Linked DNA regions of Homo sapiens. The protein of the gene in region 2 purifies or fractionates together with the protein of the main gene of each other region. This does not show direct contact. Each region holds a gene or a part of one and is shown on either strand. Other genes may lie near its edges.

The links. The genes of interacting proteins can lie anywhere in the genome.
Region 1: the proteins of SLC39A6 (region 2) and TAF6L purify together in Homo sapiens (affinity purification with mass spectrometry; one large-scale study listed by BioGRID and IntAct). This does not show direct contact.

What each region holds. Positions count from the first base shown.
Region 1 is NC_000011.10:62,777,145-62,782,009, reverse strand, and holds part of TAF6L (TAF6-like RNA polymerase II p300/CBP-associated factor-associated factor 65 kDa subunit 6L), read right to left. Parts: intron 4,033-4,865; coding exon 3,882-4,032; intron 3,726-3,881; coding exon 3,675-3,725; intron 3,142-3,674; coding exon 3,047-3,141; intron 117-3,046; coding exon 42-116; intron 1-41. UniProt on the Homo sapiens protein: Functions as a component of the PCAF complex. The PCAF complex is capable of efficiently acetylating histones in a nucleosomal context. The PCAF complex could be considered as the human version of the yeast SAGA complex.
Region 2 is NC_000018.10:36,111,606-36,116,470, forward strand, and holds part of SLC39A6 (zinc transporter ZIP6 isoform 1 precursor), read right to left. Parts: intron 2,870-4,865; coding exon 2,492-2,869; intron 977-2,491; coding exon 896-976; intron 1-895. UniProt on the Homo sapiens protein: Zinc-influx transporter which plays a role in zinc homeostasis and in the induction of epithelial-to-mesenchymal transition (EMT).

The sequences.
Region 1 (4,865 bases), on a different chromosome or scaffold from region 2:
TCCTTATAAAACATTCTCCCTGTCCCAGCCTGGTCACTTACCCCACTGACCACATAAACAAAGTAAGGCAGGAGTGCCCCAATCTTGGAGTTCGTCTGCAAGTCCTGGAGTGCAACCTAAAAGGAAGGGCCCAGACTGCATTGGATCCACCAGAAAATTGTAAAACATGAATGCGGTATTCTTCTGGAAGACAGTGTATCACCTTATTCATGTTTTACAATTTTAATGTTCATATTCTTTGATCTAGCAATTCTATTTCTATAAATGTAACCTACAGAAACTCATTCACATATACCTGCATATGGCCCTGAATACAACCTGAATGTCCAACTTTTTTTTTTTTTTTTGAGACCGAGTCTCGCTCTGTCGCCCAGTGGCACGATCTTGGCTCACTGCAAGCTCCACCTCCCAGGTTTTACACCATTCTCCTGCCTCAGCCTCCCGAGTAGCTGGGACTACAGGCGCCTGCCACCACACCCGGCTAATTTTTTCTATTTTTTAGTAGAGACGGGGTTTCACCGTGTTAGCCAGGATGGTCGCGATCTCCTGACCTCGTGATCTGCCCACCTCAGCCTCCCAAAGTGCTGGGATTACAGGCGTGAGCCACCGCGCCCGGCCATCCAACATTTTTAACTGAGAAAGGCAATCTATAAAACCAGATGCTTAATATAATACCACTTAGGTTTTTATGAGAGTAATCATAGTTGATACAGAGAAAAAAAAGTAGGTGGAGGAATAGACTTTTCAGTTTCTTTTTCTTTTTTTTTTTTCTTTGAGATGGAGTCTCGCCCTGTCGCCCAGGCTGGAGTGCAGTGGCTCAATCTCAGCTCACTGCAACCTCTGCCTCCTGGGTTCAAGCAATTCTTCTGCCTCAGCCTCCCAAGTAGCTGGGATTACAGGCGCCCACCACCACGCCCAGCTAATTTTTGTATTTTTAGTAGAGACAGGGTTTTGCCATGTTGACCAGGCTAGTCTCGAACTCCCGGCCTCAAGCAATCCACCCGCCTCGGCCTCCCAAAGTGCTGAGATTACAGGCGTTAGCCACCGTGCCCGGCCCTTTTTTTTTTTTTTTTGAGATGGAGTCTCACTCTATTGCCCAGGCTGGAGTGCGGTGGCGCGATCTCGGCTCATTGCAACCTCTGCCTCTTGGGTTCAAGCGATTCTCCTGCATCAGCCTCGCAAGTAGCTAGGATTACAGACGCATGCCACCAAGCCCGGCTAATTTTCTGGTATTTTTAGTAGATATCCAACGGGAAATCACCATGTTGGCCAGGCTGGTCTCGAACTCCCGGCCTCACATGATCCACCCACCTCGGCCTCCCAAACTGCTGGGATTACAGGCGTGAACCACCGCACCCAGCCACTTTCTTTTTCTATGTTTTTATATTATATGTACTTCTACAGTAAACATGTACTAGTATTACTTTTTCGTTTTTCTTTGAGACGGAGTTTCGTTCTATCAGCCAGGCTGGAGTGCAGCAGCGTGATCTTTTTTTTTGAGATGAAGTTTTGTTCTTGTTGCCCAGGCTGGAGTGCAATGGCACAATCTCAGCTCACAGCAACCTCTGCCTCCCAGGTTCAAGCGATTCTCCTGCGTCAGCCTCCTGAGTAGCTGGGATTACAGGCGTCCACCACCACACGTGACTAATTTTTGTATTTTTAGTAGAGACGGGGTTTCACCATGTTAGCCAGGCTGGTCTTGAACTCCTGACCTCAGGTGATCCACCTGAGTGGTGTGATCTTGACTCACAGCAACCTCTGCCTCCTGGGTTCAAGCAATTCTCCTGCCTCAGCCTCCCGAGTAGCTGGGATTACAGGCACCCACCACAACAGCCAGTTAATTTTGTATTTTTAGTGAAGATGGGGTTTCACCATGTTGGACAGTCTGGTCTCGAACTCCTGACTTCAAGTGATCCGCCCACCTCTGCCTCCCAAAGTGCTGGGAGGCCAAGGAAGGATTGCTTGAGGGCAGGAGTTTCACCAGCCTGGGCAATACAGTGAGACCCTGTCTCTAAAAAAAAAAAAAAAAAAAATATATATATATATATATATATATAGGCTCACGCCTGTAATCCCACCACTTTGGGAGGCAGAGGCGGGTGGATCACCTGAGGTCAGGAGTTTGAGACCAGCCTGGCCAACACGGTGAAACCTCATCTCTACTAAAAATGCAAAAATTAGCCAGGCATGGTGGTATGCCCCTGTAATCCCAGCTACTTGGGAAGCTGAGGTGGGAGAATTGCTTGAACCCAAGAGGTAGAGGCTGCAGTGAGCCAACATCACACCACTGCACTCCGGCCTAGGTGACAGAGCAAGACCCCATCTTAAAAAAAATGTTTTTTTAATTAAAATAATAAATAAAAATTTAAATGTTCATAGAATTAGGCCGGGCACAGTGGCTCACACCTGTCATCCCAACACTTTGGGAGGCCAAGGCGGGTGGATCACCTGAGGTCGGGAGTTCGAGACCAGTCTGACCAACATGCTGAAACCCCCGTCTCTATTAAAAATATAAGGCTGGGCACGGTGGCTCACACTTGTAATCCCAGCACTTTAGGAGGCTGAGGCAGGTGGATCACAAGGTCAGGAGATCAAGACCATCCTGGCTAACACGGTGAAACCCCGTCTCTACTAAAAAATACAAAAAATTAGCCGGGTATGTTGGCGGGCACCTGTAGTCCCAGCTACTCGGGAGGCTAAGGCAGGAGAATGGCATGAACCCAGGAGACGGAGCTTGCAGTGAGCCGAGATCGCGCCACTGCACTCCAGCCTGGGTGACAATGCAAGACTCCGTTTCAAAAACAAAACAAAACAAAACAAAATTAGCCGGGCATGCTGGCACACGCCTGTAATCCCAGCTATTCAGGAGGCTGAGGCAGGAGAATCACTTGAACCTGGGAGGCAGAGGGTGCGGTGAGCTGAGATCATGCCATTGCACTCCAGCCTGGGCAACAAGAGCGAAACTCTGTCTCAAAAAAAAAAAAAAAAAACAGGTCTAGAATTTACAATTTCAACTTTGTGCCCCAACTTGGGCCCACTCGCTCACCTTCATCAGTTGCGGATCATCCCCTAGCACAGCACGAGTCACCTGGTGATAGTACTTGAGAAGGTCATCTGTCAGTGAAGACACAGCACTGGGCACTGCCAGAGGACAGGCAGGAAGCAGGGACAGGTGGAGAGCTGGCCCTCTCCTGGCCTCTCCAGCCTCCTCCCCCTCAACCACCATCCCCACACACATCCACAAGAAGCCTTTCTGACAGGACAACCAGGGCAAGAGACTGCTCTTAGAGCCTGCTCAGCCCTGACCATCTAGGCTCTGCACACCTCTGTGCTCTGTCCTGTCTTCCACCCACCCTCTGCCAGACGGACTCCTGAGAGCTTCAGGCTCTGTGAAGCTCTGCTCAGCATACCCTGGGGGTGAAACACCGCCCCAGCATGCTGCCCAGACTTCTGTCTTAGCATCCAACATGCTGCATTATGACTAGTTACAGGTCTGGGCCCCCATCTCCAACTCTGAGCCCTCCATGCAGAGCCCAGCGCCCACTCAGACCATGGCACAAGGCAGGCATGGGTAAACACATGTTAGACGCAGACTCGGGGGCACATAGGCACCACCCTCAGAACCTAAGGGAGAAAATTCATCCAAAGAGCCTGTTTCCTACATCACCCCTTACCCGATCCTTGAGGTGCCAGGTTCCCTTTGCCATCCAGGTAGGAGACATGAACTAGAAGCAGTGCAGAGAGATGTGTCAGCCTGGCGTTTTGCCCCTTAGAGTACCGCCTACCCCTCCAAGTTCTGCCTCTTCCACCAGCCAGCCCATCACCACTTCTCTTCACGGCCCAACTCCCATCCCCAACCCATGCAGGACCCCGGCAGCCACCTCTGACAGCTGTCTCAGCACAGCCTTTGGGGATGTTGGTAGCCAGGGCCAGCTCCACCAGGTTCACCTCTCGATCCTCAGGAAAGTAGAGTTCACCCTCCCTGGCGGGGCGCATGGGCAGTGCCTCCTGTGATCCGTAACCACACACAGCCTGAGGAAAAAGGGAATTGGAGAGCAGCCTGAATCCAGGGAGGGAGCAGGCGTCAGGATCCAGGATGAGGCTCCACTGACCAGAGCAGAGAGCCCACGTTTGAAGGAAGTCCAGAAGTCCCAAGAAAAGTGGTGGAAGCCTGGGACTCAGAGCCACCACTGGGGACTTGCCTGGAGCATCCGGGGCTCCCTGGGTCAAGGGAAAGAACATGGTCGCTCCTCCCATAACTGGAAGGGTCCTGAGCCCCACACCAAGCACTGGTCCTCCTTATTCACACTCACTCAACTTTGAAAACTCACTAATGTCTTCTAAACATAGCCTTCCTCTCTCAACTCACCGCTCCAGAAAAACCACACCATGAGGCCCTAACACCCACACTGTTGCTCAGGCTCCTCCCTTAGCCTGAATGCCTTCTTTTCCTCTTGGCCTAGTTTAAGCCAAGCTCAAGTTCTTCACCACCCTTTAAGGGCCAGCTCCAGTCCCACCTCCTCCAAAAAGCTTTCTCTAACCTCTGGGCCTCCAGTGGCCTCCTCTCCCTCTTTTCTGAACACATAGCCCAGGTGGGCTGGGCCTAGCACCTGGTCTGCTGTTGCTATCAGGGTCTTGCTTCCCTTATGTGTGCGTTTAGTCTTTTTTTCTTTTTTTTGTTTTGAGACAGAGTTTTGCTCTTTCGCCCAGGCTGGAATGCAGTGGCGTGATCTCGGCTCACTGCAACCTACGCCTTCCAGTTTCAAGCGATTCTCCTGCCTCAGCCTCCCAGGTAGTTGGGATTACAGGTGCCCACCACCACACCCAGCTAATTTTTGTGTTTTTTTGGTTGTTTTTTTTTTTGA
Region 2 (4,865 bases):
TCCTGGGTAGCTAGGACTACAAGTGCATGCCACCACACCTGGATAATTTTTTTACTTTTAGTAGAGACGGGGTTTCACCATGTTGACCAGGGTGGTTTTGAACTTCTGACCTCAGGTGATCCCCTTGCCCCGGCCTCCCGAAGTGCTGGGATTAAAGGCGTGAGCCACTGCACCTGGCCAGATACCTTAACCAAAAAAATTTTTTAAGGCTTACACTTTGTCAAAATGATAAACACTAAAAATTTAATATTGTGGTCTTGCAGTGTTTTCAAGGAGCTTGGAATTTGGCCACAAAGAAGGGAGGAATGGGTGGAGAACACACATGAGATGATCAGCAAATGATAATGGTAATGCATAAAAAACAGCTGAAGAGTTCAATGCTACAATTATAAAAGGAGAAAAGAGACACATGAAGATGGAAATAAGAGAGGGGCTTCATGGGACTTGAATGTGGAACATAGATGCTGAAGATGATAAGGAATGGCTGAACATATAACAAGGAACAAAAGTGAAAATGGCATCAGCGGTATGTGTGTGAATATATCTCCAAAACAAGAAAAACAAGGACGTGAACTGGGATCCAGAACTTGGGAAGGTTTTAATGCCTAGTGACAAAGAAGAACAATATTGAAAACACAACTCATCCACTTCCCTTCAATTCCAATGAGATTCTCTTTCTCAACTTTTGTTAATGGAAGATGATTCCTTTGTATCCTGTAGTCTTATTCACCTTGTGTGTATGAAGATGATCCCTGATGTCATCAGTATGCTGGTTAGCAGACTTATGAGAAGGCATGAAATTGATGAAGAAGCTTGCTGAACTACCATTAGCAAAAGCCAGTGACACTAGAACATTTCACCCACTTGGCAAATACAATTTATGTGGTTCTCTTACCTAATTCATGAGGCAACTCATGACAGAACACAGCAACAGAAGTACTTAAACCACTTGATAAGCCTTCAGTAAAAGCAGCACCTGTGTAAAAATCAATCAGAAAAAGTTTGGCTACATTAATTTGTGTTTTTTAATCTTATCAGTATGCAAAATGAGGTAACAAGAAAATGGTATTTTGGCTGTGAATGAATAGAAGTTTCCCAAACCAACTCTGTATCTTCTTTGTAAGAAATCTTAGAGTACATTCCATGAGGTCTAAATTTCCCAAAGGAGCACATCGGGCATGAAAGAGAAGGGAAGGTTTTCTAGGCCTTAGAATGAGCGGATAAAGTTATACAAATCTGAGGAGTAACTGCTACCATATAAAAGGCATATTCAAGAATATAAAATAAACTGTTTAAAAGGTTTAGGAAAAAACTCTCCTGTCAAGGGTATAAACATGTTTCACTTGCCTCAGAGGAATTTACTATGTAACTAGATGTTTACATTTATTCTTTCACTGTTTCAGTGAGAAAACTCTAAGACAAATAGCCGTCCCCTTTTAAAAATCTGACATATTATACAATCAATCAATTATAAACCATGACTGTGCATATATATTTTTTTTTTTCAGAGACAGGGTTTCATTCTGTTGGCCAGGTTGGAGTATAGTGGTGAGATCATAGCTCACTAGAACCTCAAACTCCCGGGCTCAAGCGTTCCATCTACCTCAGCCTACCAGGCAGCTGGGACTACAGGTGTGTACCACCATACCTGGCTAATTTTTTTTTTTTTTATTTGTAGAGATAAGGTCTCACTATGCTGTCTAGGCTGGTCTTGAACTCCTGGGCTTAAGCGATCCTCCTGCCTTGGCCACCCAAAGTGCTGGGAATACAGACATGAGCTACCGCACCCAGCCGACTGTGCAATCGGACATTCCTCCTTTGTCTGTTTCAGCTCTGCATAATATAGTACAAGAGGAAGAGCACTCGACTCCCAGGGAGCCAAGGCCAGGCCTAGCTATAACACAGCACAGCCTCCTTGGACAAGTGGCGTCACCTTGACAGGCCTCAGCTGCCTAATTGCATGGTTCCTTCCAGCACTAAATTATTAAAATTTGTAAGTATTCTGTTATCTCCCAATTGTGGTATAACAATTTATTAGCAAAAGTTCTATAATTCTTCATAGGATAGAGACTGGTAACTGGACTTAGATGTATGAAGATTCCTTTAGCATAAAAGATGATGGAAAATATAATTTTACTTTTATAAATATTATATTATCGATAAGGGAACTTCAATGTATAGGGAGAAAAAAAAATCTCATACATGCACCATACAAATTAAAGACTGATCTTAAGACCTTGCAATTTAAGAACAGCTTTTGACAGTTACAATTTAGGTAATGGGCTAGGTACAATTCCTAGCATTTAATCATACCTAACATTTATTGAGCACTTCATTGTCAAAGTAGTAAAAGAAAAAGTAACATTTTTATAATCTTGGAAGTCACTAATATCCTCATCTAAACTAATCTATTCTTTGTTAAAATTTGACTAGGTGTTTAATGTGACATTTTCAGAATCAATCAACAAGGAACAAATATGTAGATATATACCAATTGCTAGGCCATCGCTGAAATTGTGCAGGCCATCACCCATTATCACCATCCAGGCCAGAGTGGCGACGCCGGCATCTTTCAGCTCCTCCCGAGAGTAGCGCTGGCTGTGACTGTGAGGATGGTGGTTTTGGTGGTGGTGATGATGGAGAATATGATGGTAGTCATGATGGTGGTGAATGAGATCGTCTGACTGGCCGAGTGTATCGTGGAAATGTGAATGGCATTTATTCTTGCACCCTCTGGGTACATATTCATTGTAGACTTCCTGTGGATGAGCATGAGCTATCATGACCTCTTCTTCTTCCAAGACTGCAGGCTGCTGAGAATCAAAGTGGGAGGGCTCTTGTGAGTCTGCTCGTAAATAGCCTTCAGTTCCTAGGAATAAACATAAAGGGCATGGGGACAGTTAGAAGGCTTTGTTAATGGACTTGGAGACATTTCAAACCTCATTGAAAAAGTCAACAGAAGATCTTAAAGCATGATAACTCCTTCATATCTGCAGAACTAAATATTAAAGTATTACTGATGAAAAACATCAAAAGATTTTAATGAATTCCAGAAATGGAATGGTCTCAAATATTAAGAATGGATTTTAAATGTTAACCTTCAATAACTACCTCTCAGATGCTCCCTCAATTTCTTCTGCCTCCCTACCTTTTTAAAAATGACTTTTTTCCTCATCCTAAGAGAAGAACCTGCTTGTTTTAGAAAACATGTTATGTTATTTAAAATATTTATTTTAGAAAAATATCTTAGAGAAGTAATGAAAATTAGAAATAAAAAAACATGCATAATCCTGCCATCTGACTTCCTCTTTTTTGGAAGGCAAAATTCAAGGAAAAAACAGAGAATCCGAATTATTTCATCATCACCAAGAAGCATTTATTATCTATCTGTGCAAAGGAAAATAAATTGCCACAATAAGGTTATTTTTTTTCTCCTGTACATAGTTATCAATTTTCTTGGAACCATCCCTGACACTGCAGTCCATTTCTAGGGCAGGTATTTCCTCCCCATCATTACACATTTCACTGGAGTCCATTTAAAAAACTGAAGAGGGGGCCGGGCGTGGTGGCTCACGCCTGTAATCCCAGCACTTTGGGAGGCAGAGGTGGGCGGATCACAACGTCAGGGGATCGAGACCATCCTGGCTAACATGGTGAAACCCCGTCTCTACTAAAAATACAAAAAAAATAGCCAGGCATGGTGGCGGGTGCCTGTAGTCCCAGTTACTCGGGAGGCTGAGGCAGGAGAATGGCGTGAACCCGGGAGGCGGAGCTTGCAGTGAGCTGGGATCGCACCACTGCACTCCAGCCTGGGTGACAGAGTGAGACTCCGTCTCAAAAAAAAAAAAAAAATTAAAACAACAACAACAACAACAACAACAACAACAACCATATATCAAAACAGTGTGGTCTAGGCACAGTGGCTCATGCCTGCTGTCGTTGGGTGCTGAGGGAAGGCCTCTAAAGGAGATACCTGATTTGAGACCTGCACAACAAGAGGAGGAATGCATGTAATGGTCTCAGAGAACGGTATTCCAAGTACAAGGAATAGTGAGTGCATGGCCCGGAGACAAGCCTTATGTGCTCCCAGCGTGAAAAGAGGGCCAGTGGGGCTGGAGCACAGTGAACAATGCGGGAGAGTGGTGGGCTCAGCGGGACCTTGAAGATCATGGCAAGGAGCTGGGTTGAAAACATGAATCTTAACTCAGTCTGTCCGACAAGATATGCCAAGCAAACAGCCAAGTTTCAGGAAAAACAGGAGAAACATGGTAGATACAACCTTAGGCAAGTGATCAAAATTACCACCACCAATAAGTGACAAAGAATCATATCAGGTGGCACACCATGTGACAGAAAAGGACAAGTACCATTTTGCGGTATTCCTGCCAAAACTGATCAACCTAATCATGCAAAAATACTAAACAAACCCAAAAGTAGAGGCAACTAAATGCAATATTTGATCCTGAATTGTACTCTGGAACAATATTTTGGTGGGGGTTGGGGGAGTGTTGGCATAAAAAGCACTATTAAGGCATTTGGAAGAATAACGTCTACAGAGAATGGCACTGTATCAGTATAAATTTCCTGATTTAATAATTAAACTCTGGTTATATGAGAGAATGTCCATTTTCCTAGGAAACATAAGTATTTAGGAGTAAAGAAACATCATGTCTATAACTTACTCTCAAATGGTTTAGAAAAAAAGTGTGTGTAGCTGGCCCTTTAGTCACTAAAAAATTAAAGAAAAAGGTGTGTGTGTAGACAGAGCTAGAGAAAGACAGTGTGGTAAAATAACTGGGGAATATGAGTGAATGGGATACAGGAATTCTTTGTACGATTCTTAAACTTTTCTATGAATATGAATT